Regions from separate parts of the Homo sapiens genome. Here region 1 is linked to region 2. The links come from fine-mapping of genetic effects on gene expression. Tissue or cell type: whole blood. Region 2 holds a variant in brackets; the other region holds the start of a gene. All regions are shown on one strand. Distances are from middle to middle.

Region 1 (2,689 bases), 36 kb before region 2:
GGCAAAGGATATGAAGACACTTCTCAAAAGAAGACATTTATGCGGCCAAGAAACATATGAAAAAAGCTCATCATCACTGGTCATTAGAGAAATGCAAATCAAAACTACAATGAGATACCATCTCATGCCAGTTAGAATGGCAATCATTAAAAAATCAGGAAACAACAGATGCTGGAGAGGATGTAGAGAAATGGGAATGTTTTCACACTGTTGGTGGGAGTGTAAACTAGTTCAACCATTGTGGAATACAGTGTGGCGATTCCTCAAGGATCTAGAACTAGAAATACCATTTGACCCAGCAATCCCATTACTGGTTATATACCCAAAGGATTATAAATCATGCTGCTATAAAGACACATGCACACTTATGTTTATTGCAGCACTGTTCACAATAGCAAAGACTTGGAACCAACCCAAATGCCCATCAATGATACACTGGATAAAGAAAATGTGGCATATATATACCATGGAATACCATGCAGCCATAAAAAAGGATGAGTTCATGTCCTTTGCAGGGACATGGATGAAGCTGGAAACCATCATTCTCAGCAAACTAACACAAGAACAGAAAGCCAAACAACGCATGTTCTCACTCATAGGTGGGAACTGAACAATGAGAACACATGGACACAGGTAGGGGAACATCATACACTGGGGTATGTCACGGGGTGGGGGGCAAGGGGAGGGATAGCATTAGGAGAAATATCTAATGTAGATGACAAGTTAATAGGTGCAGCACACCAACATGGCATATGTATACATATGTAACAAACCTGCACATTGTGCACATGTACCCTAGAACTTAAAGTATAATTTTAAAAAATCAGTTTTCTTTTGGCTTTTTCTTAGCTTTATACTTAAATATTTTTTTCTAATGTAATTAGAGTGGAATTGTTTTTTGAATTTTATTTTTGGATTACTCATAGCTAGTATATACAATTGCAATTGAATTTTATATTTTGATTTTGTATCTTTTCACCTTGCTGAACTCATTTATTTGTTCTAGTAGATTTTAGGAAATTCCTTACAGACTTTTACATATAAGTTTATGAAAGATGCAATAAAGGACTTTATCTTCTTTTCCAAAAAAAAAAAAAATTTGTGCACTTAGCTCAGAAAAAAGTAAACAAAAAATTAACACAGTTACAAATTAGGATTTTTAGTGCAGGGGAAGAAGTTGTCACCACGCCTCTAAGAGGAAGGGGAAGTCTCAGAAGTATTTTCAGTTTATGACAGAAGGGCAAAAACATTGACTGCCTCAAGGTCTCAAGCACCAGTCTTCACCGCGGAAAGCATGTTGTGGCTGTTCCAATCGCTCCTGTTTGTCTTCTGCTTTGGCCCAGGTAAATGTCAATCCAGATCGGTGTAGTCACTGAGTGACTCCCTGGTTTTGTGCAGCTTGCTCAACCTAAATCGTCTGTATACAGTTGTCTGGCTCTCTGCCAAGGGATTGGGGCGGGAAAGGGGACGCTGGCAGTGTTACCTGATATACTACTACCTCCTCTCAACTTTGGATGCGATAAGCCTGAGATGGTTGTCGGTGAACAATTTCAATTGTGTCTGCATGTAAGAAAGTTATTTGCTGGGGCAGAGGAAATAAGCTTTTGAAGACAAGACTGTTTGTGGTTTATGACCAGCATCTTGTGTTATAAAGAGTACCAAGACCAAGAAAATGGGCCCTCATACCAATGTATCTACTATCGTACTGTGAACCTCAGGGAGGTTACTTATCCTTCCTGAACCTCACTATCCTCATCTAAATTATTAAAAACCTATTATTCAGTTGAGCCAAATTTTCTGGGCCCAACCAAACACACCAAAAATAACCCTCTCACCTTTTGCTCATTGCAAAAAAAAAGGTTTCCATCTCTCCCCTCCTTTAGTGCAAATTAGGGCTAGCTAGTCCAGCAATGCATTATATATGGCAGTGAGAAAAGAATGAACTGATCCAGCTGGCTTCTTGTTTCCTGCTGTCCATTATATGGAGAAGATGAAGATTCATATCACATTTGGGGAACTACAAGTGGTCCACGGGAGACAAAGTGTAGCATTCAGGCAGAGATAGTCCAGGAGACCAATGGAAATCTAGTCCAGAGCTAGCCCAGGGTAGCAGATAAAAGTAGGAAGCATTCACTGAGCACTTATTGTATTTCAAGTATTGTGCCAGGTGCTGTACACACGTTATGAGTCTCATGAGAATTCTATGAATTTATACTATTAATATCTCCATTTTAAAATGAAGAACTGAGGTGAACTTAATTTAAATAATTTGCCCAAATTTCATTAGCCAGCATGCGACAAGCTCTTGTAATAGTTATGAGAAAAAATAACAGTTCAACAAGTGTGGCAGCAGCATAAGAGAAAGAAGAGACTGAAGCAAGAGATCCCATCAATATGGAGTTAAGTAGAGTAATTGGTAATTGGAATGAGAAAGGAATAAATATTCATTGAGCACCTACTGAATGCTTGGCACTCTTCTAGTTTGCATGAATACATCATGAACAAAGCAAGCAAAAATTCCTGCCCTCATGGAGTTAACATTTTAGCAGGAGACAAACTGTAAAAAAAGATAAACAAGTAAAATAGTGTATTGGGTAGGAAGAAATAAATCAAGAAGGAAAGGGAGAGATGAAATATGGTAAAGACGGCAGTGAAATTTCAGACAGGATAGCCAAAGAAAGTGACAAAA
Region 2 (2,689 bases):
TTTTGGTTTTTTTTTTTTTTTGAGACAGAGTGTCACTCTGTCACCAAGGGCTGAGTGCAGTAGCACAATCACAGCTCACTGCAGCCTCAACCTCCTCATGCTCAGGTGATCCTTTTACCTTGGCCTCCCAAGTAGCTGCGACTACAGGCGAGCACCATCACATCAGGATAATTTTTCTACTTTTTGTAGAGACGGGGTTTCACCATGTTGCCCAGGCTGGTCTCAAACTTCTGCGCTCAAGTGATCCGCCTGCCTCGTCCTCCCAAAGTGTTGGGTTTACAGGCATGAGCCACTGTGCCCAGTAGAGATCTTGATAATTCTCTAAATACTTCTTCATTAATTTAAAGTGTCAAAATCTTTGAGTAGGTTCTTTGAGGGCCGTAGGGACTTCTGCTATTATTTCTGTAATGTGCATTCCAGGCAGAGCCATTCTTAAGGCCAAGTGTTCCTATTCTACCAATTCCCCATGCTTGAGAAGACCCCAATGACATGATGACAAGGCAGTTAGAATTATAGCAAAAGATGGAGCAGGCAAAATGGGTAGTTTCAGTCATAGCTAGTAAAAATTTGAGACAAAACATATAATAAACTATCTGGTATATAAGTTTTTTCTTAAAAATGGAGGAAGGAAAGTAGAGCTGGACAAAGGACAAGAATACTTCCTTCCCTTCATACAGCAAGGCTGCCTTTCTCTGGCTCTTGAGCCCATTGGTTTGCTGCAGTGTTGCTGTTCTGTTTGGGGCTCAGGAAATGCCACTAAATCCTCACAAGTTTGATAGCTAGTCGTGCTTGGTCTTCCACTGAACATTCCCCAGCCTTCCTCTGGAAGAACTTTGACATATTCTCTTTTTTGTCACACAGTCTTTCCTAAGAATATATCTATGCATTAATCTCTTTGTCTCTGTGTAAGCCAAATTGGTATGATTCTTTTTACAGGAAACAGAAATCTGGACACCTAGAGAAAATGATACTATCACAATTTACTCCACAATTAATCATTCCAAAGAGGTAAGCCCACGATTGCTCCATGTTTTTATATTCTTACCTCTCTCCACAGACCTATGATTTTTCAAATAAAGTAAAAATAAAAGGGTCATTTTACAGATGCACAAACAGCAGCAGCATGCGGAAAGTCTCAGGACATCACCAAAACATAATCAAGAAGTTATTTTGTATTAGGATCACCATG[C/G]ATAACTGAGTTTTCAATTACATGTTTTTAAATTTAATCCTGCCCTATGCTATCAATATCTCTATTATCTGCCTCTCTGTAGTCTCCAGTCCTCTCTCTGTAGTTATGAGGGGTGGGCTGAGGTTCCAGTTCCAATTAACCTACCTCATCTTCCTCTTTTTCCCACAGAGTAAACCCACTTTTTCCAGGGCAACTGCCCTTGACAATGTCGTGTAAGTTGCTGAAAGGCCTCAGAGGAATTCGGGAATGACACGTCTTCTGATCCCATGAGACAGAACAAAGAACAGGAAGCTTGGTTCCTGTTGTTCCTGGCAACAGAATTTGAATATCTAGGATAGGATGATCACCTCCAGTCCTTCGGACTTAAACCTGCCTACCTGAGTCAAACACCTAAGGATAACATCATTTCCAGCATGTGGTTCAAATAATATTTTCCAATCCACTTCAGGCCAAAACATGCTAAAGATAACACACCAGCACATTGACTCTCTCTTTGATAACTAAGCAAATGGAATTATGGTTGACAGAGAGTTTATGATCCAGAAGACAACCACTTCTCTCCTTTTAGAAAGCAGCAGGATTGACTTATTGAGAAATAATGCAGTGTGTTGGTTACATGTGTAGTCTCTGGAGTTGGATGGGCCCATCCTGATACAAGTTGAGCATCCCTTGTCTGAAATGCTTGGGATTAGAAATGTTTCAGATTTCAATTTTTTTTCAGATTTTGGAATATTTGCATTATATTTAGCGGTTGAGTATCCAAATCCAAAAATCCAAAATTCAAAATGCTCCAATAAGCATTTCCCTTGAGTTTCATTGATGTCGATGCAGTGCTCAAAATCTCAGATTTTGGAGCATTTTGGATATTGGATTTTTGGATTTGGGATGCTCAACTTGTACAATGTTTATTAGACACATCTCCTGGGACATACTGCCTAACCTTTTGGAGCCTTAGTCTCCCAGACTGAAAAAGGAAGAGGATGGTATTACATCAGCTCCATTGTTTGAGCCAAGAATCTAAGTCATCCCTGACTCCAGTGTCTTTGTCACCAGGCCCTTTGGACTCTACCTCAGAAATATTTCTTGGACCTTCCACTTCTCCTCCAACTCCTTGACCACCATCCTGTATCCAACCATCACCACCTCTAACCTGAATCCTACCTTAAGATCAGAACAGTTGTCCTCACTTTTGTTCTTGTCCCTCTCCAACCCACTCTCCACAAGATGGCCAGAGTAATGTTTTTAATATAAATTGGATCCTTCAGTTTCCTGCTTAAAACCCTGCAGGTTTCCCAATGCACTCAGAAAGAAATCCAGTTTCCATGGCCCTGGATGGTCTGGCCCACCTCCAGCCTCAGCTAGCATTACCCTTCTGACACTCTCTATGTAGCCTCCCTGATCTTCTTTCAGCTCCTCTATTAAAGGAAAAGTTCTTTATGTTAATTATTTACATCTTCCTGCAGGCCCTTCCTCTGCCTGCTGGGGTCCTCCTATTCTTTA

The links. PIP is the estimated chance that this variant, and not a neighbour inherited with it, causes the effect.
Region 1: it holds the start of SLAMF6, and the variant in region 2 is fine-mapped to the expression of SLAMF6 in whole blood (TOPMed, PIP 0.90).

Annotation. Positions count from the first base shown.
Region 1 is chr1:160,521,798-160,524,486 of GRCh38, reverse strand. SLAMF6 (SLAM family member 6) reads left to right here and starts at 1,232. Exons shown (of 8, transcript NM_001184714.2): 1 at 1,232-1,343. The coding sequence starts at 1,295. RefSeq lists an enhancer at 1,398-1,447.
Region 2 is chr1:160,485,423-160,488,111 of GRCh38, reverse strand. It overlaps SLAMF6 (SLAM family member 6), which reads left to right. Exons shown (of 8, transcript NM_001184714.2): 7 at 937-1,008; 8 at 1,358-2,689. The coding sequence ends at 1,405. Among named protein-coding and RNA genes, the nearest start is that of SLAMF6, 36 kb to the left of the region's middle. The variant C/G (reference allele first, on the strand shown) is at 1,190.